7 linked regions of the Homo sapiens genome follow. The protein of the gene in region 1 interacts with the protein of each later gene in a pairwise test. Each region holds a gene or a part of one and is shown in the gene's direction. Other genes may lie near its edges.

What was found.
Region 2: the proteins of VAX1 (region 1) and HECW1 interact in binary tests that used the Homo sapiens proteins (3 or more experiments, as listed by UniProt).
Region 3: the proteins of VAX1 (region 1) and RPRD1B interact in binary tests that used the Homo sapiens proteins (3 or more experiments, as listed by UniProt).
Region 4: the proteins of VAX1 (region 1) and EAF1 interact in binary tests that used the Homo sapiens proteins (3 or more experiments, as listed by UniProt).
Region 5: the proteins of VAX1 (region 1) and ESRRG interact in binary tests that used the Homo sapiens proteins (3 or more experiments, as listed by UniProt).
Region 6: the proteins of VAX1 (region 1) and SPANXN2 interact in binary tests that used the Homo sapiens proteins (3 or more experiments, as listed by UniProt).
Region 7: the proteins of VAX1 (region 1) and POLR3C interact in binary tests that used the Homo sapiens proteins (3 or more experiments, as listed by UniProt).

Annotation. Positions count from the first base shown.
Region 1 is NC_000010.11:117,135,281-117,139,976, reverse strand, and holds the start of VAX1 (ventral anterior homeobox 1), read left to right. Parts: upstream 1-1,706; 5' UTR 1,707-1,920; coding exon 1,921-2,161; intron 2,162-3,317; coding exon 3,318-3,505; intron 3,506-4,696. UniProt on the Homo sapiens protein: Transcription factor that may function in dorsoventral specification of the forebrain. Required for axon guidance and major tract formation in the developing forebrain.
Region 2 is NC_000007.14:43,118,594-43,122,779, forward strand, and holds part of HECW1 (E3 ubiquitin-protein ligase HECW1), read left to right. Parts: intron 1-353; exon of another isoform or gene 354-602; intron 603-3,209; exon of another isoform or gene 3,210-3,426; intron 3,427-4,186. UniProt on the Homo sapiens protein: E3 ubiquitin-protein ligase that mediates ubiquitination and subsequent degradation of DVL1. Also targets the mutant SOD1 protein involved in familial amyotrophic lateral sclerosis (FALS).
Region 3 is NC_000020.11:38,036,623-38,040,808, forward strand, and holds part of RPRD1B (regulation of nuclear pre-mRNA domain-containing protein 1B), read left to right. Parts: intron 1-836; exon of another isoform or gene 837-1,485; intron 1,486-3,812; coding exon 3,813-3,942; intron 3,943-4,186. UniProt on the Homo sapiens protein: Interacts with phosphorylated C-terminal heptapeptide repeat domain (CTD) of the largest RNA polymerase II subunit POLR2A, and participates in dephosphorylation of the CTD by RPAP2. Transcriptional regulator which enhances expression of CCND1.
Region 4 is NC_000003.12:15,437,503-15,440,946, forward strand, and holds part of EAF1 (ELL-associated factor 1), read left to right. Parts: intron 1-1,606; coding exon 1,607-1,653; 3' UTR 1,654-3,444. UniProt on the Homo sapiens protein: Acts as a transcriptional transactivator of ELL and ELL2 elongation activities.
Region 5 is NC_000001.11:216,506,623-216,510,808, reverse strand, and holds part of ESRRG (estrogen-related receptor gamma), read left to right. Parts: intron 1-3,625; coding exon 3,626-3,870; 3' UTR 3,871-4,186. UniProt on the Homo sapiens protein: Orphan receptor that acts as a transcription activator in the absence of bound ligand. Binds specifically to an estrogen response element and activates reporter genes controlled by estrogen response elements.
Region 6 is NC_000023.11:143,717,450-143,722,243, reverse strand, and holds the start of SPANXN2 (sperm protein associated with the nucleus on the X chromosome N2), read left to right. Parts: upstream 1-1,491; 5' UTR 1,492-1,575; coding exon 1,576-1,653; intron 1,654-4,794.
Region 7 is NC_000001.11:145,837,221-145,841,406, forward strand, and holds part of POLR3C (DNA-directed RNA polymerase III subunit RPC3), read left to right. Parts: exon of another isoform or gene 1-271; intron 272-315; coding exon 316-376; intron 377-835; coding exon 836-986; intron 987-2,669; coding exon 2,670-2,771; intron 2,772-2,895; coding exon 2,896-2,945; intron 2,946-3,701; coding exon 3,702-3,851; intron 3,852-4,186. UniProt on the Homo sapiens protein: DNA-dependent RNA polymerase catalyzes the transcription of DNA into RNA using the four ribonucleoside triphosphates as substrates.

The DNA of each region.
Region 1 (4,696 bases):
TGCAGGGCCAGAGATGCCCTCCGGAGCTGGGCCAAACCTGGGTGCCCCTAAGTGGCTGGAGGGGTGGCTGGGTGGACAGCGCGAAAGACCCCGCTCAGGGGGCCCCCTCCTGGCTTGGGACGGTAGAGGGGTCCCGCGGGGTGGCGGCGGAGGCAGGGGAGGTGGCGGCGGGGCGGGAGGTGCGGACGGTGCGCGCGTCGCTGCGAGCTGGAGCCCCTAGGGGCCCGCCACACACACTCGCACCCCTCCCCCTCCCGGCCTTCCTCCCACCCGCTCGCCGCGACCCCCTCCCCAACCCCCTCCCCTCCCCCCGCCTCCGCCCCATTCTTGGAATTGTGTGGAAAAATTCTCAGCCAAACCTCCCACCTCTCCTCTCCCCCCACCCACCCCCTTTAAAAAACCCCTTTCCTCCCCGGCCCCTGCACTCTTTGTGAATGAGGGCAGGGAACACGGCCCTTCCCCCGCCCAGGAGCCACGCCAGACCGCCGCACTCAGAGGACTGTTTGTTAATAGTCCAATTAGATAATTGCCATCTTTCACTCCTTTTGCTCCGCATTTCCCATAAAGGAATGAATGGGGAGAGCGGCGTGGAGAGGGCTTCTGCCCCGGCAAGGTGACGAGAAGGGCTGGAGCATGCTCCTTGCACAAGGCCATGCGCTTGAATTGAATCATTGTAGCCTAATCAATGCTCTTATTGGATTACTGGCTGTTGCTTTTCTCAAAGATATTGTAGCAGAGACAATGAAATAGCTAGGGGAAAACTTTTTTTTTTTTTTTTTGAAGCAGATCTCACAGTTGAGATTTCTCGGCCGTCTCTCCCTCTCCCCCTCTCTCTCCTGCTGGACTCTGAGTACAAAGCTGCCCTTTGAATGGGCTGCCTCAGGGCTGCTGGAGGTGCAGGCATGAAAAAATCCAACTGGAACTAAATGAAGAGAGGTGGCAGTTTAAGATGGCTGTCTGCGTCGAGGTGTGTTAAGAAGGAGTTGTTTAGGGGAAAATCTTGGCTTTTTTAGAGTGCAAGGGAGATACTTTTTGGGAAAACTTTCTCCCCCCGCTCTGTCCCCCATCCCCCACTCCCAGACAACTGCTTTCTTCTGCCGCAGGGTGCGCAGGGTTTTTTTTTTCTCCCCCCACACCCCCCCGCCGCCCAACCCTCATTCAGCTCTATCTGGCGAGTGTGGAGAAAACCCCTCTAGCCAGTATGTGAGCAGGAGGGTCAAAGGCAAAAGGAAAGTTAATAATGCCTGCTAATGGTACTAACAATTCAGGATGAATCTTGTCAAAAGTTTTTCTGGAAGTGTGGGTCTTTGATTGTGTGTTTCCTGAAAGCAAGACCAATCATTTCCGTTTATTCACTGGCTAAACCCCTACTTGATTGGGGACAAGGACAGAAACCATCCATTACGATCTGATATATTATCCAAACAATTTAGTGTATTCATGAGGTAACCGAAACGTGGGGGCTGCGAAATTACCCGTAATCAATTGCAACAGCGAGTGTGCGTCCCCCCGGGTGTCGGACAACTACAACTCGCCGTCTCAGAAACAGGCGGGAGCCGCAGCATTTCGGAGTTGCGCTGTTCGCTACCTGATCGCCAGGCTGGGGACACTGGACGTGCTCAGAGGACGCGGGTGCTGACGAGGCGGCCTCGCCGCAGCTCCACCAGGATCCTGGACCAGACTGGCCGCCTCTCGGCGAGCGCGCCACTCTCCCGTCGCCGCTGACCCGCGCGCGGCCGCCGAAGCCTCCCCGCGGGGACATTCATTCTTGCCCCTTGCCTGTCGCCGGGCCGGGCGTACGGGCCGCGTTGTCGGGGGTTTTGTCCCCTTTTTCCTCTTTTTTTTTTCCTTCTCCGCCCCCCCCCCTTTTTTTTTTTTTTGCTTTTTTTTTCCTTTCTGTTTTTGTTGTTGTTCTTGCCTATGTTCGGGAAACCAGACAAAATGGACGTTCGATGCCACTCGGACGCCGAGGCTGCCCGGGTCTCGAAGAACGCGCACAAGGAGAGTCGGGAGAGCAAGGGCGCGGAGGGGAACCTCCCAGCCGCCTTCCTCAAGGAGCCGCAGGGCGCCTTCTCAGCGTCGGGCGCTGCTGAGGATTGTAACAAAAGTAAATCCAATTCCGCAGCGGACCCGGATTACTGCCGCCGGATCCTGGTCCGAGGTAGGGATGGGCAGGGCTGCCAGGCGCGTTCTTTGGGGTCGACTCCGGGGCCGGAGCTGCGCGCTGCCGCCGACACAGGCCGGTGGGAAGGAGTGCCGGCTGGGACTTGGGAGAAAGTTGTTGGCCCTCCCCGCCCCGAGTCCGGCTGGGGACAAGCGCCTGGGACTCTCCGGTGCGCTCTCCAGGGGCCTCGGCCCTCCACGCCCGGAGGGGCCCCGCTGACCGGGCTGCGGGGGGAGATGAGGGGCTGCGCGGGTGCGGCCGGGCATCGGGCTGCGGCCTCCGACCCGGGAAAGGAGCAGAAAACTCCGGGAGGAGGTGTGCGCGCTCCAAGGGCCGGACGACCTGCCGGGAGCCGGCCAGGGGACTCCCGCGCTCTGGAGGGCTGAGCGCACCCAAGGGGGAACGCGAGCCCCGGAGAACAGCTGCCGATCGCGGGCTACGGCCCTGCCAGTTAGTGCACTGGGCCGAGGACCCCACGGCCGCGATCGGTGCCCGACCGCTGCCGCCGGGAGAGGCAGCTGGGCTTGGTTACGGAGCCGCGGTTGCCGCTTTGGTGCTCTGCTCTGCCGCTCTCGGATGGCGCGGCGTGCACTTAGCCCCGGCGGCGGAGGCTGCGAGGCCGGGCCCCGGCCCGGCGCCGCCCCAGCCAGCAGCAGATCTCCGGGCCCGGCCGGCCCCGACTCAGTCCCTCCTCCTTCCGCCGCGCGGACTCCGGAGGGAAGGAGACTCGAGGGTGGGGGTGGGGACGTCTGGATCACGGTCTGGTCGGCAAGCCCAGAGCTGGGGCCCGCAGGACCCGGGCGGGGCGACAAGGGTACCCTCAGGCTACAGGGGACCCGGAAGGCTCAGCCGAGGCCCCCCCAGGCCGGAAGAAACGTCCGCCTATGTGGAATTGATTGGATTTTTTTCTCTCCCCTGTCTGGAGGACTCTACAAAAAGACAAAGTGTGGTCCCTCCTTCGGTCAGCGGTATGGAGTTAGGCCCCTTGCCCTCCACACAGTGTCTTTGCTACCTGGTTGTGGTCGCGCTCCGCACCCCGCCCCCCATCCCCAAAACTGCACGCTTCTGGGGACTGTGTCCCCAAATCCAGCTCGGGCCAAGGAGGTGGAGGGGGACGGGAGGGTTCTGGCGGCTGACATCTCCCCTTCCCCAGATGCCAAGGGGTCCATCCGAGAGATCATCCTGCCCAAGGGCCTGGACTTGGACCGGCCTAAGAGGACGCGCACGTCCTTCACCGCGGAGCAGCTCTATCGGCTGGAGATGGAGTTCCAGCGCTGCCAGTACGTGGTGGGCCGCGAGAGGACCGAGCTCGCCCGGCAGCTTAACCTCTCCGAGACCCAGGTACCCGGCGACCAGGCCGCACACAGTTCTGCACCAGCCTTCCTCCCCACCACCCCTACCTAGCCTGCTCTTCACCTCCTAACCTGCTCTGGACAGAACTACCCTTGGGAGGTGGAGGAGATGGGAAGGATGGGTAAGACAGGCCTAAGGATTCCTTCCCCTAGATAATACATCCTTTCCCCCCACCATTCCTGCCATCCCCAAATCCTCCAGGGCCCATGTTTTATCCACCTTGGCCTAGGCCCAGAAGGCCCCAAATCCTGTCCTTTTGGAATTTTTATTGTCCCCCGGTTTTGAGCATTTCCTTCGAGCTTCTGCTCTACAAAGAACTGACTTTTGCCCTTGTTTGGGGTACCCCATTTTGGCTAGATTTCTAGGCCCCACCCCTTGTGGGCCCACCCAGCTGTACTCAGCGTCCAGGCCCATTCTACAGGAGTGAGGCTAGATCTAACACCCCCTGCCCCAGCACCATGGGTGATTCCCAGGAATTAGGTGTACGCCCTCCTGGAGATCTGCCTGTGCAGATCAGGCTGCCCTGACCCTTAAAGGAAGGCTTTCCCCATTCTGAGCTGGCCCCAGCCCTGAGCACCTAGGAGACCCTGTCTTCTGGGCCAGTGATGTGTGAGGTGTGTGATGGGAAGGAGATCTAGGACCCAGAAGCCAGTACTGCTGATTGTGCTTTAGATCTTTCCCTTTACATTAAATCCATATGATGCCCCTTGGAGCTGGCCATGTGGGCTCTGGGCCCAGGAGAGGACCCAAGAACTTGCCAAGTGGCATGTCACCAGCTTGGCCTAGCTACGGCAGCCTTCTTTCTGAAGACTGATCCTTTTCCCCATGCCCAACCCTGAAGCAGGTGGAGAGCATTTTAGGTCCGGGATCTGGGCTGAAAGCTGAGGACTGACAGAACAGATAGGGGTGTTCTTTTTGAGTTTGAGTTGGTATGGTAGCTTTTTCTATTCTCTCTGCTACTACTCCTCTTAGTTTATAAAATCTAGATAGGATAGTCTTTGCCTATTGCTGCAAAACTCTTCTGGGCCACTGCTAGGCCTGCAGAGGGGCAGAAGAATGAGAGGGGAGGTTAGTGGGGAATATTCAATCCACCTCAGCCTCCTGACTTTCTCCCATGATTCCAAGTTCATGACTCAGACCAGTGGAGAGATAAACTAAGAGTATCACCAGACCCTTCAA
Region 2 (4,186 bases), on another chromosome or scaffold:
AAGGACTTCTTTTTTTCTTTACCGTTATTCATAATTCCTTGTGCCATCAAAACTTAAAACTACTTAATGACGTTTTCCCTCTATTTTGAATATAAATTATTTTTGTAGAAATGAGCTTTTTGAAATTGGAAAAAAAAATCGTTTTGAGGATTGTTGCCAGCTTTATTTCCCCCTGCCTACCCCCAGCATTGTCCTTGGTGTCCCCTCTACATGACCGGGCATAGGACCTGCATATAAAGAGGATGATGATAAGGAAATAATTGGCATACAAATGGTACTGTGATGTATGACATTTATAAAACCGCTCCCTGACTCCACATCCCCCATGATGGATTTTCTGTTTCTTTTTAAAGAATATGCTTCAAAAAGGTTGTCCCACTGGCCTTCTTCACTCCCTCCATCTCAGCCTCTAAAGACATATTTTATTGTGACATATTTGATTTTGACAAACAGCACATTGAACATATATGAAATATATGAAGCAAAATATGACACACACCCACCATGCAGCCTGAGACCAGAAGATCACCATCTTATTTGAAGCTACTTTTGTGTTTCTGCCACCTCTCACCTTTTGCCTGTCTTGAGAGCACCTCGATCAGGTATCAGTCACTCGTTCCTGTCACTCCCCTCCCTGTTGTCATTAGGGTCACCAATGATCTCTACCTGGTGAAGTACAAGGGCACAGCTTTGCTGATCTGAGCAGCATTTCCCATGGGGCTGTGGGGGACCACTCTTTTCTTAAGCACCTGGCTTCTTCCAGGACACCAGATTCTCCTGGTGTTCCCGCAGCCTCTCTGGCTCTTCTCTCTCAGGCTCTTTGGATGGCCCCTGAGTTTTTATCCCGATTGATCTCAACTGAATTTTGACCTTTAAATGCGGGTACGGGGATTCCCCAGGCCTTGGCTCTCAGACTTCTTCCCTTCTTACTTAAATTCCTTCTCTCAACACTGTCTTCATGCTCATGATTCCAAGTTTATTTCGTCAGCCCTGACTCATTCCCAGAACTCCAGACTTGAAAATGCAACCGCCCAGCATCTCCCTTTGAATGGCACGTTAGCTTAAAATTAACATGTGCAAAATACAACCCCCGATTTTTGCTCCCTAAACGTGCTTCTCTTCTGGTGTCCTCCATCTCTCTCAGGGACAACTCTGTCCTTTCAGTTGTTCAGGTCAAATACCTGTGAGTCCCTCTGACTTTTTTCTCACCCAGATCCAGCTTTCAATAAATCTCTGTCCCTTCTCTCTCCCTCTCCATCCAGCACAGCCATCCCCGTCTAAGCGCTAGTAAGCTTTCCTAACTGGTTTTCTGTAGTCCTTGCCCATCTGCAGTCTGTTCCCTATACAGCAGCCCAAACGAGCCTTTAAAAGTGGAAGTCTTCTCATTCATTCATTCATTCAACAAATACTGCCTAGACATCTGCTGTGTGCCAGGCATTGGTTTAGGTGCTGGGATGTAGCAGGATCACAGTGCAAAACAGTCACAAGTCCTTGTCCTCCTGGAGTGGACATTGTGTTACTTCTTTGACCATAGCCCTGTTCAGGATGAAACCCAAACTCCTTACTTTGCCTACAGGGCTTGCCTTGCCACTCTCCGAGTCCCCAGTTGTCCTTGCTCTTCCTAGAACGTGCCAGGTACAAATACTGTTCCCTTGACCTGGAGGGACGGTCCCCCAGCCACCTGCATCCTGACCCCCTTTATCAGATATCACACCCTCAGAAAGGCTTATTCTGACCACACACAATGTGCTCTCTTCCATCTGCTTGTTTGCTTGCTTTTTCTTCATACCACTTAGCACCACGCAATTTGTTACATAGTTTCTGCTTATGTGCTATTCTCTGTCTCCCCTTCTAACTTGTAATCTCCATTAGAGCAGGAACCTATTTGTTTACCCAGTGCCTGGAAAAGTGTCTGGAACATATTAGACACCACACTGAATGTTTGCTGACTGACCGAATGATGTAACAGGTGCTTTCCTTAACTGAAATCCAACCTCAGAACTTTCTCTATGTCCACATTATATTGGATAAATCCCCTCTATTTATTTATTTATTTGTTTTATTTTTTGAGACAGGGTTTCACTCTGTAACCGAGGCTTGAGTGCAGTGGCATGATCTTGGCTCACTACAACCTCCGCCTCCCAGGCTCAAGTGATTTTTCTGCCTCAGCCTCCTGAGTAGCTGGGACTACAGGTGCACACCACCACACCCGGCTGATTTTTGTATTTTGTGCAGAGATGGGTTTTCACCATGTTGGCCAGGCTGGTCTGGAACTCCTGGCCTCGAGTGATCTGCAAATCTGAGTGATCTGTAATCCCAAAGTGCTGGGATTACAGGTGTGAGCCACCACGCCTGGGCAGATAAAACCCCCCTAAAAGCTGCTGGATTAGAGTTTAGATGATATTTTCAGGTCTCAGGATCCTCTGAGCATATATCTTCCCTTTTCCATGCACTATTTTTCCCTCCCCTACAAGGAGGTGGCTGGGGTTCTTCCTTCCTGCCTGGACATTTTGTTGGTCCTGAACTTCCGTGTTTTTCTCCTGGCTGGTGTTCTCTAACAGTTAAAGAGAGTGGCTAGCTTGAGCTTGTCTTTGCTTCCTCAGCACCCAGCAAGTAGACCCGGCAACTCAATTATTGTTGAGTTGAATCACTTAGTTGTTGTTATTGTTGCTGCCAGGACTTGATAAAAACTGTTCTTTGCTTCCTCTGGGCCACACTGACTTTGTCATCTTGAATGTGAGCCTGTCAGTCCTGTGTTCAAAGCTCTCAGGAGTGGCCAAAGTACGCACAATTCCCTAGGCTGGCATCGTCGGGCTGTAGGCCTTGGCCAGCTCATATCCCCATGCACTCTTTTGACCCTCTGTGGCAGCCAAGCAAATCATTTTCCCATTTCTCCCAACATGCTCTGTGCTTTTCCGTAGTTGTGTAAACATACAGTGATATGTAAACATATAGTGATATGTAAAATCACTATATTATACATATAGTGATATTTTATATATCACTATATGTATAATAAATGATGCTATTTTCTGCTCTTAGACTCCCCATCCCTCTGTAAATGTAACCATTTTTAAGATCTAACTTAAACCTTACCTCCTAGCAGAGTCCATCACTCAGTTTCCTAATAGGATATGATTTATCTCCCTACAGAATTCTCCTGGAATGAGTATCATTATTTGCTTATTCTTCACTCTCCTGTCTTTCAGCCTCCCTACTAAATGCTGAGCTCCTCTAGGTTAAGGGCTTGTCACACTTCTCTTAGTATTCCTGAAACTACTTGCCTCAGTATCTGCCTCAGCAGGTACTTCTTTCTCCGAATGTGAAATGAGCTCAAGGAACAACCTAAGAGTTGAGAAGGTCTGCATTTCGTTGCTTCTAGAATGCTATACGCCATGTTGTGTCCACAAAATGCGTACCCCAAAGGTAAGTAGAAAGTTAGAAGAGGTGCACTCCACAAGGACAGATTTTTATTTGTTTGTTGATTCTTCAAGGACAAAGAACAGTGCTCTTCACTCAGTAACCATTTGAAGAATGAATGAAGTACATAGCTGGCATCTTAAATTTCTAATACCCTTGTTCTATAAATGAGCAAAGCCGAGGACTGCAGAGCTTTCCCAGGTTCACAAGGTCAGAAGTAGAGCCCAGTTTTCTGCAGCGTGAATCCTGTCTTTCTCCTGATCTCCACCCCTGCCATGAATAGTGTCAGACCGGAGCGAGAATTGTCCCAGTAACTCTTTCCAGGTGATGCTCACTAGTGTTACTTTCTTACCAATATCTGAGGAGCTTCCTTCTTTAGGCAAGGTCTAATTTTTAGGTCATCTGAAAGAAGCAAGAGTAGAAATTGCAGAATTTCAAAGGACTCAGAGACCCAGAAAGGGGGGTTTATTGGCAGTGCTCCTCTCCTGCTTTAGAAACAACTTTTAACAGCAAGTAGCAAACTTTTTGATGAGACCTCTCTCATAAGAACTTTGCAAGCACTATCCATCCTGTTGTCGCAATAAAGTAAAATTTATCTTTCTTAGAAACATACATTCAGATCATGGTGTGACATCCTTGAGAAAAATAGCGGAAATTCACAAATTGTTATTTTCTCCTTTCTCCCAGGAAAGGAAAAAAATATCACTATATGTATAATAAATGTTAAGCTTCGAGATTCTAAAGAGAAATTTGACCAAGGGACTAC
Region 3 (4,186 bases), on another chromosome or scaffold:
AATTTTCGTGGTTGAGTAAAGGATCTAAACAGCGCTATCCAATACAACTTTCTATGATAGCAGCATAAAGGATATAAACAGCGCTATCTAATACAATTTTCTGTGATAATAGCAATGTTTTCTATCTGTGCCATCCAACAGGTAGCCGCTTGGTATATGTGGCTATGGAGCACTTAAAATGTGTGACTAAGGAACTAAAGTTTTAAGTAGATAGAATTGAAAATTTAGTTTCCAGTTTTTACCAGCTGCAATTCAGGTGTTCCAATAGCCACACGTGGCTAGTGGCTAACTTACTGGACAGTGCAGAGTTAAAAAAAGATGCTCTTCCAAGCATCAATACCTAGCTTCCGAATATCCAGGCTTATTTCATGAACTGAAAATGCCCCCACACTGAAAGAAAAGGATTCTGTGCCCTAATGTTCAGATTGATTAGCCCTGTAGGTTCTACCTAGGGTGAAGTCATTTTCCGTAGCTGAGATGCTCACAGACTGTCTCTGAGTTGCCTTCAAAATATATGAGATTTATAAAAATTAACTTTTTTTCTTGCTTAAATACTTCTATTCCTGATGTGTTGTCTTTCCATTTTCTAGGAATAATTTTTAATTTATCCCATTTGAGCTCTGTTCTAAGTAGAACGTCTCCCCTTCTTTATGGACTAGTTTTGGTGTAAAGTGCTCCTAAATGAATGTTTTTAATGGTGTTTTGTATCTTGGCCTGAATGTAGGTAATGGGCTTTTATTGCAGAATTACTTTAAGACTTTCTGTAGATGTCAAAACCAGCCAAACAAGTGAAAAGTTTTGATTAACCAGTTGTTTAAATTTTACTCAACAACTAGTTTGACCAGTTTGGAATGGACATGGGTAGTGAGTGAAAGGACCTATTTCTGTCGTATAGGAAGGACATCTGAACAAGTGAGTTGTCCCCCAGGATTGGGATGGAGGGGTGTGCATGTTGTGTGTATTGTGACTGTGTGTGCTCAAGAGCTCTAGGGTTTTGTCATATCACCTTGACACACATGGTGCTTATGTTGACTGTTGAGGATGTTGAATATGGAGGGATACAGTTTATCCTAAATAAATCCCCATTGTTAAGTTCTGGGGTGATGAAAATTAATTGGCATTGTAAACAGTGAAAACCTTGGGTCTCAAGCCCCTTAGATACCTTGTTTGTCTACTGAGAAGTATATATCAGGTCTTGAATGTCCACACTGACATTTTACAATATGGATTCTAGGTTTTTTTTTTTTCAACATAAAGTGTATGGAATTTTAAAGCTTCACTTAATGAAATTTGCTTTGTTGAAGTTCTGTTTTGCTTTCGAATCTGCTAACTTGCATGGGATTATAGGTGTAGTAGTTTCACTTACATCAACTTTGCAGAGCAAGGTTTGCTTTAACAAAAAAGCACGTTTTGCCATAATCATACCTTTGTAGCAACAGTAGATATTGTAACTACTGACACTTTTGTTCTGCTTTTGAATAATAATTAGAAAGTTGAAGAAAGCTCCAGGTTCCTAGTATTCTTATCAGTTGGCCATCTAAACTAGGTTATTACCAGAAGGTTAAGACAATTCAGGGTATCCATATTTAATTTTATGAGCATTTAAGACATCAGTTTCATCAGTTTAAACTGTAATGTGCTATTAAAATCATGTTTTTAACTTGGGTTACTCTCCTGTAGCTACATTTTTTTTTTTTTTTTTGAGACGGAGTCTCTTACTCTGTCACCCAGGTGGGAGTGCAGTTGGCGCGATCTCGGCTCACTGCAACCTCCGCCTCCCAGGTTCAAGTGATTCGCCTGCCTCAGCCTCCCAAGTAGCTGGGTTTACAGGCGCCTGGCACCACGCCCGGCTGATTTTTTTTGTTTTGTTTTTTTTTTTTTTTTTTTTTTTTGAGACAGAGTCTTGCTCTGTCACCCAGACTGGAGTGCAGTGGTGTGATCTCGGCTCACTGCAAGCTCCGCCTCCTGGGCTCACCCCATTGTCCTGCCTCAGCCTCCTGAGTAGCTGGGACTACAGGCGCCCGCCACCACGCCTGGCTAATTTTTTGTATTTTTAGTAGAGACAAGGTTTCACCATGTTAGCCAGGATGGCCTTGATCTCGTGACCTCAGGTGATCCACCTGCCTTGGCCTCCCGGAGTGCTGGGATTACAGGCGTGAGCCACTGTGCCCAGCCTCCTGTAGCTACATTTTAAAATGTCAGATCTTATGCCTGCTATGTCAGACATATCAATGCTTTGTACATTTCAAAAGAAACAACTGGTTTCAGAGAGAAATAGAGTTACTCAGGTGTGTTAAGGTTGATAAAGAGCTTGTGTTTTTCAGGTACTTTAGCATTGGAGAAAACTTTGTGTTTTGAAACATCTAATTATGTTCTTATTTATTTCTTTTAAAAGAAAATTGGAACCAAAAATTGTAGGGATGTAACTTTATAGTTGAGAAATTATGTGCATAGAAGCCAGGGAATTCAGTAATGTTCCCCAAAGCAACTGTAACTCAGACATATTGCACGAGGTTTTTATGGTTTAATATATGATACCATATAGAGTAATAGGGAATAACCACATTTCATATAAATAAGAGAGAATTATGGTTTTTGTGAAAGCCCTAATTTTGCATATCTAGATTTCACACGTGTGTAAATTTTCAATAAGAGTGTAGTGTTAATGTATACTTGTATTTGAGCTAATATCTATTGGTGCACCTAGAGATTCTTCTATATTATTGATTATGGTTATTGGAGTATCAGAGAAATTCTCAGTTTAGGAGCAAAATTACAAGAAACCTTTTTTTTTTTTTTGAGACGGAGTTTTGCTCTTGTTGCCCAGGCTGGAGTGCAACAGCATGATCTAGGCTCACCACAACCTCTACCTCCCGGATTCAAGCGATTCTCCCACCTCAGCCTCCTGAGTAACTGGGATTACAGGCATGTGCCACCACGCCAGGCAAATTTTGTATTTTTAGTAGAGACGGGGTTTCTCCACGTTGGTCAGGCTGGTCTCAAACTCCCGACCTCAGGTGATCCGTCCATCTCGGCCTCCAAAAGTGCTGGGATGACAGGCATGAGCCACCACGCTCGGCGAAACCATTTTAAAATTGAAACCTAACTCAGTCTTTTTTTTTTTTTTTTGAGACAGAGTCTTGCTCTATTGCCCAAGCTGGAGTACAGTAGTGCAATCTCGGCTCACTGCAACCTCCACCTCCTGGGTTCAAGCGATTCTCCTGCCTCAGCCTCCTGAGTAGCTGGGACTACAGGTGCCCACCATCACACCCGGCTAATTTTTGTATCTTTAGTAGAGGTAGGGTTTCACCATGTTGGCCAGGCTGGTCTCAAACTCCTGACCTCAAATGATCCACCCACCTCGTCCTCCCAGAGTGCTGAGATTACAGGCATGAGCCACTGCGTCCGGCCAACTCAGTCTTTCATTCTGAAATATTTGATAATTAAAAGTGAGTTAGAAGTTGCTCATTTTTGCAGTAGAATAAATAAAAGCCCTAGTTTCAACATTAACACTGACTGCTTATCCTTTAGGAATTCTCTTTGGATTATCTTAATTTTTACTATCAATTAATTACCCTGGTTTAAACAACACAGCAATGAAGATGGCCCATTCTTTTTCTTTTTCTTTTTTTTTTTTCCGAAATGGTATTCCCAAACCTATTCCTTAGGTGGTCTTTTTAAACATATCTACTTGACCCCCCAGGTAGATAATACTTGTCTTAATGTTTTTTTAGGAGCAGCCCAGGGCAAAAGAATTGTGAATTGAGAATTTCTTTGGTGTAAGTTAAATTCTTTTCTTTTCTTTTTTTCAGCCAAATCAAATAGAAAGCTTACTTTTCTGTATTTAGCGAATGATGTCATCCAAAACAGTAAAAGGAAAGGACCTGAATTCACTAGAGAATTTGAATCTGTCCTTGTGGATGCTTTTTCTCATGTTGCCAGGTATGTTGTCTGTTTTTTGGATTTGTTTTTAAATTCATTGCCTTTCCCACCTTTTTGTTCTTTCCTTTTCTGTGATAGCCTTTGTAAATTGACAACTTCCTACTTTACAGAGAGTTGTGGAGGCCGAATTGTGGTTTTATGTTTTGTTGAGCCCTCAAGAACTATCGAGACATGTAAACATTCTGATACATTTGAGAGATTCAGCCTAGCATTATCTTTCTTCTAGATATATTCATTTTCATTT
Region 4 (3,444 bases), on another chromosome or scaffold:
GTCTTGAACTCCTCCTGGGTACAAGTAATTTCCCCAACTGCCGAAGTGCTGTGATTAAAAGCATGAACCACCATGCCTGGCCTCGGTGTGTTTTAATGCAGTTGATACTAAAGTAAAACAGGAAAACAAGAACAAAAATTTATTTGTTTTGAAGGTGAACAGAGGGCTAATTTTCTATGCTTTTCTCTTTTTGGAACCCTGATGAATGTTCTCTCTTGGTACACCTTCCTTTAAGGAAGTTGGAAGGTCTAGAGGTAACAGTGGGGAAGTTAACCTAGTTAATCCAACTATTGTGGACCAGGCAGAGATAATCTCAACCTCAGCACTATGGGCAGTTTGGGCAAGATAAGTCTTCTTTGTGGGAGGTTGTCCTGCACATTGTAGGATGTTTAAGAGCATCCCTGACGTCTACCCACTAGATGCCAGTACCAGTCTCTTCCCACCTCCCCAGCCCCATGACAACCAAAAATATCTCAAGACATTGCCATTATATGCCCCATCTTTAACATAGAGACTGAAGTATATGAAGAAAATCTGGCATTCTAGGTAGTTAGAAAAGGGGTGACCTCAGGATCAGACCCCCCTGAAAGGGTTTCATGGAACCCCGAGTCCTCAGAATAGACTTTGAGGAGAACTGGCCTAGAGATTAGCAATTTGGAAATAAAGAAAATCACTTTTGCTACAAGTGGTATCAACTGGGGTTCTGTTATATGTATTCCTATTGTATTAGATTGAAATGTTAAGTAATTATATTCTTCTAAATTCTGCCTAGTAAACAGGAATCTGGGGTTTTGTAAAGCACGTTAGTTCAGATTTGAAATTTAAGATAACGTGACTATCCTGGACAGAGGTGTGCCAGAGCAGATACTGCATTAGCATATTACTGGTGTTAACAGTATTCACCTTTCTTAATGGGAAGCCTACCGGATATTTTCTTAAGTTGCCTTTATAAAGCAACTTAATGTGATCAGTTCTTCCGAATGGTGATCAGTTATTTTAAATATTTTCTTTTTTTTTTTTTTTCTTTTTTCTTTTTTTCCTTGAGACAGTCTCACTCTATCGCCCAGGCTGGAGTGCAGTGGTGCAATCTTGGCTTACTGCAACCTCCACCTCTTGGGTTCAAGCGATTCTCCTGCTTCAGCCTCCCAAGTACCTGGGATTACAAGCATGTCCCACTACACGTGGCTGATTTTTATATTTTTAGTAGAGATGGGGTTTCGCCACGTTGGCCAGGCTGGTCTCCAACTGCTGGCCTCAAATGATCTCCCTGCCTTGGCCTCCCAAAGTGTTGGGATTACAGGCGTGAGCCACTGCGCCCAGACATATTTTAAATATTTTCTTGCTATTTATTAAACCATTTAAAAGTTATCCAGCTTACTTCTCCTTTGCTCTACCCTAATATGCAGTATTGTTGTGCTTTGTAGATAACCAAAAGCACCATTTTGTTTCAGTGAGCCAATTTGATTTTCTTCCCTAAGTTGAATTAACAAGGTTTTACTGTAGTGTGATAGCCAAGGCAATTAACAAAAAATTATGAGGAAGTCATTTTTAAATTCTGTACTTTTGTTTGATTCTATGATTTTACTTTATTTTTTTTTTTAAATAGGAAATGACTTGCAGTTGAGTGAGTCTGGCAGTGACAGTGATGACTAGTGCTGGATCTTTCGAAACCTACTTTTTGGTGCACAAACATGCCGCAAGACTGAGCTACTTTGGCGTGGAGTCCATTGCAAGAGGAAAATGTTATGGATCAGTGACTGTAGTAGGAGTTTGAGGCTCTGGAACTCTCACATATTCAAGTCTTTAACTTAGTGGTGATGGGTGATTTTCTCGTGTCATTTTTGAACAATCTCATCTTTCAAAGTTTAAGTAGACCTGTAGAAGAGCTAACAGAATTATATTTCTATTTAGTTAAAATTGTTAATGAAAAACAGATAAATGTGCCCTGGTCTAAGTTACTCAAAGGCCATATCTTCACCAGGCCAGAGATTCAGTTTTAAACCTCAGCAGCCATCAGTTTGGCCAAGTGGTTGGTACCAGTGGAATGAAGTCTTTGATGGGTAGGAGAGAGAGGGAAAACCTCAAACTACATCATAGAAGTATGTTAAAACCACTTTAAATTGTTGACACAAAGTGGTAAGGAAGTTTTGTCTGACTCAGCCTGACAAGCCTGGATAGAAATGGACCTCAGAATACAGAATGGAGTCCTTGAGTGTCAGTTGGTGAGGACCATGGAGTCCTGCCAGCTCAACCTGTCATTTACAGACTAAGAAAGGGAAGTACACACCTGGCTTGTGGCCAGTCTCCTGCCCCCTCTCTGGGCTTTCCTCACTGTTCTCTCCCTTGAATCTCATTTGTAGGAATCAAGAGATTCCTATACATGGGACTTTTAGATGTACATTGGCACTTGGATTAGATTCCAAAAGACAAAAGTGTTGGGTGCTTCTAGCTTGAATTCAGTCCCTAAATACATGAGGCTGGGTGAGCAGATGAAACCGGTAGCCACTGTGCTGATGCATGTGACTCCATTCAGTTGGGGATTTTGGTTCCATGTGGATCCATACTAAGTATTCTTCAGTCAGTGGATTTTAGCAAGGGGAGGTAGGAGTGGAAGAGAGGTGTGAAGAAACCTCTCCGAACAAATGAACCAGCAGTAAGTTTCTAAAAATCAGAATCTAGATAGAAGTTCTGCAATATGAAATGAGCACATTCTTTGATAAGGCGTATCTATTCATGCTTTTGTACCACTGTTTTGTACCTGACTCCCTGACCGATTTGTATTTTTTATATACAACTAGAAGGAAGTCACAAGATTGCCTTCTACAGTGTGCCATTTCCAAATGGATCTGTTGTTGGAGGAAACTGGTTGCTAGTCAATGTTCTATATTTAATGAATGTGTGATAAATCATCCTGTAATCAGTATGGAGTAACCTGTTTTTGTAGTTTGGATGAATATGTCCTGAGAAATTTCCATCCACTTTGGTTCAGCGGACATCAAGGTAGTAATAATAATTTTTCCTCCACAGGTCCCTCCACTCATATGGCCTCTCCCTCCCCAGCTAGTGGAGGGGAAGCAGTCTGGACTTAGAAAGGAAATAGGTGGTCTGTCATAGGGGCTTTCATTAGAGTTAAACTTCATAGAGTCAACTGTTTCATCATCATAGTGAGCCCAGAGAGCCACTGCCCAGCAGCATGCTCACACCACCTACCCTAGTGTAGGTAATAGGTCTACGCTAGGACCCCGTGCTGGGCTCTCAGCCCATCATGAGATTTTGGTGGATTTAATGGCAGGTAGGAACTTATTTATAGTGGATTGATAATTGCTTTATAATTCCTTGGTAATGACAGCTCAGGGAAGGTTTCACAAGGTCATGATCAGGAGACTTGAATTGTTACTGGATGTAGGAATTGTTTCACTGCTCTTAACTTGCTCAAACTGGGGC
Region 5 (4,186 bases), on another chromosome or scaffold:
TCCGCCTCCCGGGTTCATGCCTCAGCCTCCCGAGTAGCTGGGACTGCAGGCGCCCACCACTACGCCCGGCTAATTTTTTGTATTTTTAGTAGAGACGGGGTTTCACGGTGTTAGCCAGGATGGTCTCGATCTCCTGACCTCGTGATCTGCCTGCCTCGGCCTCCCAAAGTGCTTGGATTACAGGCGTGAGCCACCGCACCTGGCCCACAATGATTAATATTTTCTAACATAGAGAAGGGCAGTATTTTATTCAAGGGAAGATATAAAAATAAAATCTTCTTTTTCAGTGGCTCTGTCTTATTCAATTTGCAGCTGCAAGGATGATGATATTTAGCTATCTTCCCAAAGTAAATGATCTGAACTAGACACATTTTTTTAGGATCTCTTTCACAGAGTAAAATATTGGAAGTTTTGATAAAGTTCTATTTTATTATTAGGTGTTAGACTTAATATGTGGGCAATAATATGTGTTTCATATACACTCTGGTTATCTTTTGAAATATTTATTCTTTTAGAATAGTATTTGCTTGTCTTATTGTCTAATTCAGTAGTAGTTCTTAATCCTGGCTTGGCAGTAGAACTACCTAGATTTTCAGCAATGCTGATGTCCTAGTTCTGGTCTCTTACTTCATAGATCTAGACTTGGGCCCAGTATCCAAGATTTTTAAGAGCTCGCCCATTGTTTTTAATATGTAGCCTAGTCCTGTCTAGTTAGTTCATAAACTTATGATATCCATTAAGTTTAGCTGGTTCCTATTAGCACAAATACTAGGAATATTTCCTTTAAAGCATAGTTAAAAAGAAACCAGCATGAACAATGAAAACAAAATAAATTACATACATTAATGCCAGTTCTATTGAGCCTGGTGTCAACGTGTAAATTTAACCAAAAGAACAAAACAGAGATTAAAACCACAGATCCAGAACTTGAACTAGGATCCCTAATGGAGATTAATATTTTCTTCAGCAGTCTGCCAGCTGAATCATTGTCTAATTAAATAGTTCAAATTTAGTGAGTTTGCATTTAAAGTATTAGCAGATCCGAGAATGGGTAAAGCTAAAATGAGTTAGAATCTTTTCTATAAATGGGAAGTTAAATTATCATAGTAATTTGATTAAATCATTTTTAAATCTCTCATGCTAAATCACAGCCTTGAAAGAATAGTTTGAAATCTTAATTGCTGTTTGTGAGCATATCTCTCTGCTATTTGTTCTTGTCTCATTTCCCATGACATCCTATAATATATCTCCTGCTGGGCAAGAGTAGTGGGAAAGGCAAGACTATGGGTAGGGCCGAGGTAACTGTGCAGCTGACTTCAAGCACTTAAAGATATGCCATGTAGAAAAAGGAAATTTATCCTGTATTGTTCTAGTAATTAGAAACAGGACCAAATGATAGAATTTGGAGACAGATTTAGGAAAATTTAAAGAGGAAATTCATAATAATTAGTTTTGCCTCTTATCAAGGAGAATACTCTACATACTTTTCATACAACTGGCAATGTCTTCATTAAGAATGTTGTAAAGAAGACAGCTGATGAAGATAGGAGTTTGAATAGGATGTGTTTAGAGGACAATTCATCCCAATTTTTAAGGGAATGCAAATTTAGTGTTCTACATTCTAGCAGCATTATTGATTTGAAGAATCCTGAATTTAAACCTGTGTCTGACACATATTACCAGTGCCACGTGTCTTCTAGGGCTTGGGGAGGTAAAATGAGGCCATGTTCACCTGAAATAGGTGCTTAATAAATGGTAAATGTATTATTTTTATTCTGGTGTGTTTTTGGTCTAGTTGGAAAATAGTTATTTCGTTTGTTTTGTCACTGCAGAGTGTAATTCCCATTTTCTCCTTCCATCTATTACTCTGTTTTCATGTAGAGAGCTAATTATTAGACCCAGGATAAGTTGGGAAAATCCAACTCATCTCTGTTCCCTTATGCACAAGGTCCATATTGCAGTCTTTTGTGTATCTAGAGACTCACCATAGTGTTTCCCCATACCTCCCATTTTTCCTTCAGGTAGCATTTAAGTGCAAAAATAGAGAGAAAGAATATCAGATCATGTTGCCATCATCTCTATGAATGTTTTTCTGTCCCTAAGATTACCAACCCCTAGACAACTTTAGAAATTATGTGTGTTTGTTTCTAAGAGACAGCACCATAGGAGGTGGATGAGATTGCCATGCTGAGAGGAACCAGACTGGAGAGAAGCTGGGTAGAAACAATCCACAGGGAAAGGCCAGGCGTATGTTGGGGAGTGACTTGAGTCCCGCTCCAGGGAACCACTATCAATGCTATTTCCCACTTGGAAAAATTCCTTCTTTTTGCTCTGCCAGGCAGAAATTGAGTCTTGAGCAGTAAATACTTATAAGCAACTTTATTCCAGATTATTCAAAAATTTTTTAAAGAGGTGTCATTAAACTACCTAATGTAAATAGTGGTCAGTTCACCAGTGATATGGTGGAATGATTCAAAATGACAATGTAAGTGAAAAAAACACTAAACAAAATACAAATAAATTTTTAAGACATGCTACTGGTTATCTTTTAATTAGTTTGCCATATTTCATTTTTATTATATATTTAGCCACTTGATTTTAAATTACATTCCCTCTCTTTTTGTTCATGTGATCTATGTTTGAATTGTATGAAAGATTAGGCTAACTACATATATCTTAGAGCTCAGCATTCTCAGAGAACTAGAATTATTAAACATGAAGAATCCCCCAAAGACTCCATTATGTGTAATTAACAGATAAACTGTCATCAGAATCAATAAAACGTGCTAAATGATTCAAACTTGTATATAATTAAGTGTCTGCTTTAGAGCTGGAGCTGTAACTTTTATTTTTTCCCCACATCTCACATTTCTCACAAGAATAATTTGGCAACCTTGTTAACCCTTTCTTTGCTTGATTGAATTAGATTTTCAAATTATTCATTTAAGGGCAAAGTTCACCTTTACAAATGCGAAAAATATTTCAGAACTCAGTGATCTGAAGACACCATTTGTTTTTCATCAGGGAAGTAGACTCTGTAAGGATGCTTTAATCAACTGATACTAGAACATTAAACATCCTGAAAGGATAAATAATTTATTGTGATTTCTGTATAGTGCTAGATTCAATGTAGTCACATGGAGTTCTTAGAATCTTAGTCAACAATTTTTTCCCCTGTTTGGGAAATATTGGCTTTTCCAGGCAAGATCAGAATTTTAAACAACCTTCCCCCACACAGCACTAAGATAATACTTTCAATAGATGGCCTTCCGTGGTTGTTTATTGAGTGAATGAATATATACCTGGATGAGACAATGAATAAAATAGTCAAGACTGTAATCTGTTAAAAGAAAGCCTTCTCTTGCTCAGCCTGAGAAAGAAAAATACACATTTTAAATCATAGATCTTTTCTAATAATTCCCATTTTCTAAGCTAGTATTAGAAATTATGTAGGGAAATTTGGAAAGAAATAGAGATTGTAGAAATGCAAGACTCTGAACAAATCATAGGTTCAAGCTCAGAGAAGTTCAAAAATAATTAAATTAATAACTAATTTTATAACTCTAGTCTACATAGGTTTGCTATTATTATTATAATTACTCATATCTTTTGCTTCATTGCACAGACTCCATGCACATAGAAGATGTTGAAGCCGTTCAGAAGCTTCAGGATGTCTTACATGAAGCGCTGCAGGATTATGAAGCTGGCCAGCACATGGAAGACCCTCGTCGAGCTGGCAAGATGCTGATGACACTGCCACTCCTGAGGCAGACCTCTACCAAGGCCGTGCAGCATTTCTACAACATCAAACTAGAAGGCAAAGTCCCAATGCACAAACTTTTTTTGGAAATGTTGGAGGCCAAGGTCTGACTAAAAGCTCCCTGGGCCTTCCCATCCTTCATGTTGAAAAAGGGAAAATAAACCCAAGAGTGATGTCGAAGAAACTTAGAGTTTAGTTAACAACATCAAAAATCAACAGACTGCACTGATAATTTAGCAGCAAGACTATGAAGCAGCTTTCAGATTCCTCCATAGGTTCCTGATGAGTTTCTTTCTACTTTCTCCATCATCTTCTTTCCTCTTTCTTCCCACATTTCTCTTTCTCTTTATTTTTTCTCCTTTTCTTCTTTCACCTCCCTTATTTCTTTGCTTCTTTCATTCCTAGTTCCCATTCTCCTTTATTTTC
Region 6 (4,794 bases), on another chromosome or scaffold:
CAGTGATGCAATCCAGAGCTTTTTAAGATTCAACACTTTTCTTTTGACTATTCTAGGCACTTTATATTTCCATAGGAATATTATAATTATCTTGTCAATTTCTATTAAAAAGGCTTTTTAGAATTTTGATTAGAATTTAGTTGAATCCACAGATGAAATTGGAAATAACTGCCATTTTACAATATTGAATCTTCCAACCGAAAATCAAAGTATAGATCTCAATTTTTTTCTTATGTCATTAATTTATCATTGTAAATTTTTGTAGTTTTAAGTGTACAAGTCATTTACATCTTTGGTCAGATTTATCCCTAAGCCTTTAATATTTTTAGTGATATTTTAAATTGCACTGTTCTTAGTTTCAACTTTCAGTTGTTGAAATTAACTTCCAGTCCACCCTAGGACTACCATTGGCTAAAACATTGTCTCTTCTAATATAGAAACTTCTCATATGTAACTGCTAATATATAAACATACAATTGATTTGTGTGTTGATCTCTTACTTTGCAATTTTGCTAACCTCAATTAATGTAGAACCATTTTTTTAGATTGACTTTTCTACATATACTCTCAGGTAGTCTTTGACAAAAGATACTTTTACTTCTCCCTTTCCAATCTGAATGCATTTTTTTTTCTTTTACACTGGACACAATCTCCAGTACAAAGTATAACTGTGCCCATACTGGTGCACATGTGGGTCTTAGATTGTAGCATCCTGCAGGTAAATACTCAGAACAACTTCCAGCACTTGAATATCCACTCCTTCCCCCACCCACATACTGGCAGAATTCATGTTGGGATACTACATTTACTATGAACATAGACCCCTGATTTGAAACAAGACTAGGATACATGGTAAAGAAAGTTTATTCACCAAAGTTTTGACAGACTGAAGGCCATTATTTCAGATTGGAGATAGGAAACTTAAAAGAACTACATGGACATTGGGTAAAAGAACATGGGTTGAAATTTGCCTGGCAGTAGCCTAAAAGTAAATGGTCTTCAAGGTGCATGTGAAGGAACTGTAGGAGGGAAATGGGATAATTCACATCTCCACCAATAATTAAATGTAGCCACACTAGCTTGGAGGGATTTGAGGTGAGACATCTAAAATACTAAGTCATGGTGAGGGCTGGAAGACAAAAGAATGAATGACTTCATAGGAATGACTGTGGGGAAGGGCTTGAAGGAATCATCCTCTCACTTCCATGTGAACCATGAACATTAAACATGGAGAAATGAGCAGCAGCAGATTAGTTTGGGATGCATCTTCAGGGGATGCTGAAACAACAACAGCATTTGGTTTCCTCTACACCCCTGTCATCCGTCCCCCACAAGCCCAGGGAGTGGTCAGCAGTGGTGCTTTGTGATGTCTAAGCCACCCTAGGACTGCCATTGGCTGGGACACTGCCTGTATGATCAAACAAAGCTCAAGAGTGTGGCTTTGCCTTGCCACCAGGAAGGTATACATAGGGAGGGCCAGAGCTCTGGGACATCCTCCTGGCAAGCTTCAATATAGCTGTGGAAGTCTGCAGTCTACAAGAGCCTACTATAGACATTCTACAACCAAGCAGAATCATGGAACAGCCGACTTCAAGCACCAATGGGGAGAAGAGGAAGAGCCCCTGTGAATCCAATAACAAAAAAAATGATGAGGTAAGATTGTTAGGTTTTGAAGGGAAGGTGAGGGTGAAAGAAAGACACACAGAGAAGGGACGGCTCAAACAGCAACACAGGAATACTGCAGACACCTGTGGAAGTGGGGGACCCGCTTAATGCCAGAACCCACCGCCGCTTACAGGCTGGGGTGCTTATAGGTATGGGTGGGAGGGGCCGGGGCAGTATGGCTTGCTGCCCGGCAGGATATTGATAAGATGTTTTTATGATCAGGCTGTTTGGTCCTTTTTCCAGTGGGATGTCATTGTGGTGTTTCTTGGAACTTTGCCCAGCAAGATACCATAGGAAAGTTTCTTTAGTTGGACCTGTGTCCGCCTTGTGTTACGACGATTAGGCAAGATTTTTCTCATGGCCCGAACCCCCGTGGAATGTTTCACTTTGATCAAGGTCTGCAAAATAGCAGGGTGCTTACTAAATGGTGGTTTGGACTCACATTCTTGCCTTCTACTTTAGTATAAAAGGAAGAGGGGCATTGTTGATTATCTGGCTGCTTGCTGCCGAATAGGGGAGCTGTAATCAGGGTTTGGGTTTTGAAGCAGGGGGTGACGGACTTCAGAGTTGTTTTCCTGGAGGCACTGGTACCGGACTTGGCAGAGGAGAAGGATGGTATCAATGTGTTGCTGGGTGGCTGCCTGGAGAGGGGAGTTTAGCCTTCGGGAGATAAAGCAGGATATGAAGGTGAGTATACATCGGCCAAATGTACTATCAGGAGGAGGAAGATTAACGGCCCTAAGAAAGGGACCACCTGCTATCCCAGTGCTGAGTGCATCAGAGATGTTTAGTTCTGCTAACACTAGAATGAGATGTACAGCCTGCTTAGTGTGTGTGGAGGAAGATGAGACAGAAGCTACTAAAGGAACCTGGATGGTCTGCTTGTTAGGCAAAGTGTTAATGTTTAGATTGAAACACAAGGGTGCATGTTCCTGACCAATTGGCCAGTAGGCAGAGATAAGAGTTTGTGCCGCAAAGGAAGAAGACACTAGGGGTGGACAGACAAAAGTTGTAGGTTATGGTGGCAAGTCATGAGAAGGTGGGGGTTGAATTCTGCACAAACCCTTTGTTTTAACTTTTATGTTTTTCCAAGTTGAATACCTGCCAGCAAGGGTAGCCCCTCTGAAGGCCTGATAGGAAATGTTGGTAGTGGAGGAGGTGAAGGCTGTTTGGTTTTGGAGAGAGAGCAGGAAATGGGTTTTTGTAACTAATAGCCATTGCGGTCCTGACAGCGCAGAAGGATACAGGTTGCAGTTGAGGGAATTGTTTGTGGATATTTTCCAGGGAGCGCCCTTGACTTGGATACATGGAGAGCGGCTCCGGCAGAAAGGGGAGGGGTTGATAAGAGGTATTTTCTGGAATCCGACTGGTAACATGTTTAGTTAAGAGGCTATGAGGTGAAGGAGGGTGACAGCCCTGTGTGTGACGGTGTGGGTGGATTTGATGGATTGGTGGGGGGGGAAAGGTGATTAGCCGAGCAAGATTATAAGCAGGTTTTGCGAATGAATTGGTCAATTAGGTGAAATGCAGGTTTATTTTGGACAGGGTTCATGTGGCCAGGTTAACAGGAAGGGCTGTGAACTACTGGATTTGTGTGGACAAACAAATTTAACAGTTGGAAGGAAGAGGGGAGTGTGACTGATTTAAGAGGCAGTGAGGCTGATGAAGGGGGCTCATCTGTTAGACGTTCGGGGTGGGGACTTAGAATATCCCACAGATAGAGAGGACAAAAGGAGAAAGAGGAGATTTGAGTAGGAGTGAAATTTTGGAAGGTGCCCTGAAGTCATATCTCCTTGATTAGTGTGACAAATTGGCCTGGACTATTCAGGGTCATGGGGAAGGGAAACCAGGAAAGATCTGAAATAAAGTAGGAGACAAAAGATTGGAAACTGGAGACAGAGAGTGTTATGGACTAAGGTGTTCTGGATTGGCAACTTCTGGAATTCTTGTTAAGTACAGTGAGGTTGGTCTTGTCAGGGAAGGAGAATAATTTGGGGGTGAACAAATTTCTAGATGTGGATCTGGTGCTCTTTTTAGTTTGAAATGTGCATTCAGTGTGCAAAGGATGTTAGCTTTGGCGCTGTGGGAGTAGTTAGCATCACCTGGTGAGAATTCCTCCACTTAGGTTGGAGAGCGGGGGAGGAGGAGTCTGTGATTCAGACCCAGCCCGCTGGTTGTAGGGACAGGGAGGAGTGTTTTGAGGATGGACTTTTAGGCTGGGTCAAGTAAGCATTTGCGTACTGTCTTATTAGATGTTGGGTGAGGTGTAACGCCGGCCAAGTATTCCATATAGAATGGGGGGAAAATACAGGGAGATTCTGGAGGATAAATGGAGCATTTGTACATGAATTTAAATGGGCTTAGGCTGAGCGCTTTTAGGAAATGACTCATAATCGCATGAGGAACAATGGGAGAAGTGAAGTCCAGGCCATTTTAACCTTTAAGGAGAGTTTGGTTAGTTGTTGTTTTTTATAAAATTTTTCCTGAAGATTCGGAGTGGTAAGGAATATGGAAAGCCCATTTAATGTTTAGAGCCTTTACCAGCTGTTGGTTAAACTGAAACAAATTGGCCCATTGTCTGACTGGATGCAAGAGGGGAGTTTAAACCGGTGGATAATATGGGTGGAGAGAATAGAAGCGATGGTGTGTGCCTTTTTGGTGGTGGTAGGAAAAGCTTTTATTCATCCAGAGAATGTATCTACTATTGTTAGAATGTATAGGAATCACTTTCTGGGGAGCATGTGAGTGATGTTGATTTGCTAGTCCTGCCCTAGTAAGTGTCCTCAGGTCTGGTGTGTGGGAAAGGAGATGGTTTGATAGCTTCCTGAGGGGAAGTTTGAGTGCAAAGGGAACATGCCTTAGTAATATCTCTGAGATGGGCAACCATGGTGGAAGAATGTCTAGAAGTTTTTAAAAGCTGGAGTAGGGGCAGTAACCGGCATGGAAATGGTTGTGCACATATGAAAGTACAGAAGGTTTTTTAAACTTGGGCAAGACACTTTATCAGTGAGATCGAACTATTTTTTCCTGAATGGCACCAGCCTGGGCAAGTGGGTTTTTTTCCTGCTGGGTATATACAGGGTGTATGCTGGGAAAAAAAATGAGCAATAACGATGGGGTTTTAAGGGC
Region 7 (4,186 bases), on another chromosome or scaffold:
CGCTAGAGCCCAGGAGACAGACGTTGCAGTAAGCTGAGATCATGCCACTGTACTCCAACCTGGGTGACCCTGTCTCAAAAAAGAAAAGGAAAAAGGACTTTTAATCAACCAAATTTTAGTTAAGCAAAACCCTTACTTAAACACTTGTATTAAAGTTTTGGAATATTTATGTACCATGACTGAAACCATAAATTATAACATGAAAAACAAAATAGCATTTAAAATTTAATTATAAATTAGAAACTTAGGAATAAAACTCAGATCACAATAACTAGGCCAAAACATTACTGAGTGACCTTAATTCTCTACATAAAGACCTCCATAAGGCATTAGCATCCCTAGCCACAGCCACTCTGGAGTCCGTCGTACAGGAGAGGTAAGGGGGACACTGGTTGGGTTTGGGATCACATACTTCCTATCCCCAGTGAAGTAATTTGATCATTATGTAAGCCACCAATATAACCACACCTTGGCATACTTTTCCCCATTTTTTCACTGGACTCCTATGGATCTCATGTAATACTGCTCTTTACCTTAAAATAACCTACTGTTTAATTCCTACCGATGCAAATTAACCAGCCTCCCTAAAGCCTTTGCTTACAAATGTAGGAACTGTGGCACTCAAATGAGTCAGCAGTTGGTGACTGCCTTATGATTAACAGCAGTTGGTGATGCCTTACCATCACCAACCTATGGAGCTGTAGAATAATTTTCTGATCACTGTTCCTGTCTGGTACTGGCTTCACACATGGAATAGAACAACCACCCCATCTATGACTGGGAACTAAAGCTGATCTATGTTAGCATGCCATTTGCTTTCTTCATTCCTTTCCAGATTTGGGTCTCGCTGTGCTAGAATATTCCGTCTAGTTTTGCAGAAGAAACACATAGAGCAGAAGCAAGTGGAAGACTTTGCAATGATTCCTGCAAAGGAGGCAAAGGATATGCTATATAAGATGCTCTCAGAAAATTTCATGTCACTCCAGGTAACCAACCAAGGGCGTAATAATTGCCAACCAGCAAAGCTGGCCTAGGGTGAGAGAAGCTTCTTAGGCAAACATACTGAACCCCCAAGCAAACTCTATATCCAGCTCTGAGACAGAAAAACATGATTCACAGAGACATAGCGAGCACTTGGAGGATAATTTGGGGCCTTAACTGCCCTAGTGAGAAAGAGGTGGCCGGGCACGGTGGTTCGCGCCTGTAGTCCCAGCACTTTGGGAGGCCAAGGTGGGCAAATCACTTGAGGTCAGGAGTTCGAGACCAGCCTGGCCAACATGGTGAAACTCCGTCTCTAATAAAATACAAAACAATTAGCTGGGCCTGGTGGCACACGCCTATAGTCCCAGCTGCTCGGGAGGCTGAGGCAGGAAGGAGACTCTCTTGAACCCAGGAGGGGGAGGTTGCAGTGAGCCGAGATCAAGCCACTGCACTCTAGCCTGAGCAACAGAGTGAGACTCTGTCTCAAAAAACAAAAAAAACAAAAAACAAAAAAGAGGCAGAGCCAGGACATCACCCCAAACCCACCCTGCCTTTTTTTCTCTTCTCATTTCTGTCCTTCCTTAAGCCTTAATTCTGTTATAGTTTAAATTTATCAACACATCTAACTGAGTCTTTGCAGGGCTATTTAGTAGAGCATATGAGTAAATAGATAGAATGGATTTTTGGAGTCAGATTACAGCTCTGCCTTACCCAGTTACATTAAGCAAGTTACCACGTTTCCCATCTATAAAACAGTGATGGATGGTGATAATAAAAATAATATGGTTGCCAGGTGCGGTGGCTCATGCCTGTAATCCCAGCACTTTGGGAGGCCTAGGCGGACGGATCACTTGAGGTCAGGAATTCGAGAATAGCCTGGCCAACCTGGTGAAACCCTGTCTCTACTAAAAATACAAAAATTAGCTGGGCGTGGTGCCGTGTGTCTGTAATCCCAGCTACTCAGGAGGCTGAGGAAGGAGAATTGCTTGAACCTGGGAGGCAGAGGTTGCAGTGAGCCAACATTGTGCCACTGCACTCCAGCCTGGGCAACAGAGCAAGACTCTGTCTCAAAAATAATAATAATACGACTTTTTGTAAAGATCAAATAGAATTTACCTGGCACATAGAGTTGTTCAGTAAATGTTAGTTGCCCTCCCTTTCTTCCCCAGCTCAGGATGCTGACAGTCAAATGGAAAAAACAGGGAAGCCCAGCTCTCCATTTGACTGATTATGACATAAACCACAAAGACTGGGCCGGGCACACCTGTATTCTCAGCACTTTGGGAAACCAAGGCGGGATGATCACTTGAGCCCAGGAATTCAAGACCAGCCTGGAAAATATAGTGAGACCATGTCTCCACCACCCCCAAAAGATTAAAAAATTAGCGGAGCATGGTGGTGCATGCCTGTAGTTCCGGCTACTTGGGGGACTGAGGTGGGAGGATTGCTTGAGCCGGAGGTGGAAGTTGCAGTGAGCTGATATCATGCCACCGCACTCCATCCTAGGTAACAGAGCAAGACCCAGTCTCAAAATAAATAAATAAAATAAACACAGGTACTGAATGACTAGGAAACAGGAAAGTGTAAGTAAAAAGGAGGGCTAAGTAACTCCAGGTAGAATGAGTGTGTGCTTTGCCAGTTCTAAAACAGTATAATTTCTGCTATTTTTCTTTCTATTGGACAAATAGGAAATTCCCAAAACACCAGACCATGCCCCATCCAGGACCTTCTATTTATATACTGTGAACATCCTGTCAGCTGCCCGAATGTTGTTGCACAGGTGCTACAAGGTAACTCAATCTGGACCTTCTCCCCATTTCCTCCATACGGTCAAGTACCCCTCATGTGCCCACTTCGCCCTGAGCTGCTGAAATAGAACTATGTGCATTCCTTGTCTGTCTTCTCTTTCCTCAGAGCATAGCCAACTTGATAGAAAGGAGGCAATTTGAAACCAAAGAGAATAAGTAAGTAACATTTTCAGTTGAGTTATTTACATCTTTCAAGATCAAGGGCCTCAGGGGAAATTTCCTCTAGAAATAGGAATCAATAGACGCTGGGCCTGGCAGGGTGGCTCATGCCTGTAATCCCAGCACTTCGGGAGGCTGAGGCAGGTGGATCACTTGAGGTCAGGAGTTTGAGACCAACCTGGCCAACATGGTGAAACCCTGTCTTCACTAAAAATACAAAAATTAGCTGGGCATGGTGGCGGGCACCTATAGTCCCAGCTACTCGGGAGGCTAAGGCAGGAGAATCACTTAAACCCAGTGAGTGGAGGTTGCAGTGAACCAAGATCACGCCACTGCACTCCAGCCTGGGCGACAAAGTGAGACTCCATCTCAAAAAAAAAAATTTTTTTTTTGAGAAGTAGGAACCAGTAGAGATAGCAACCAGTCTACTTGCATTGAATCATTGGCTTAGATTAGTGTAAATCATGCATTAGTCTACACTTTTCTAACATGCTCCCAGTGAAATAATTTTTCAGATTAAATTTGTGAGAAACGTACAAAAGCACCAAACTTTTAAGTGCAAATGAGAGGCAATAAGAATTTCAGGAGTGAAGTTATATTTCCAAATAAGTTTGTAGAAAATGTCCTTAGAAGGTGACATTATCTACTTTGATCAGGAAAATGGTAAAGGGTGGTGGGTAGTGCCTCAGACACACGTGGTAAGAGAATCTCCCAGGTTAGGGAAGATGTCTCAGAGTTGTGTTTGTTTGACAGGCGTCTACTAGAAAAATCTCAGAGGGTAGAAGCCATCATTGCATCTATGCAGGCTACTGGTGCAGAGGAAGCACAGTTACAAGAAATAGAGGAGATGATCACAGCTCCTGAACGTCAGCAGCTAGAGACCCTGAAACGTAATGTCAACAAGTAAGCATCATAAACTTCAGACCTGCATTTCAGAATACCATCCAGAAAATCCATTTTGACCTCCTGTAACCCTCCAGCTTAGCATGAGCAAACCTAAACTCACTGTCTCCTCCAGCTCACTTAACAGAATTTAATCCACCTATTTTTGTAAACTAGCAATTCTGAAGATGTTCTGAGCTTCTTCTCCATCACCATATACACTCTCTTGTTCATCAAGTACTGATAAATTTTTTTTAAGAGACGGGGTTTTGGCTGTGTTGCCCAGACTGGCCTTGAACTCGTAGGTTCAAACAGTCTTCCTGCCTCAGCCTCCCAAGTAGCTGGGACTACAGGCA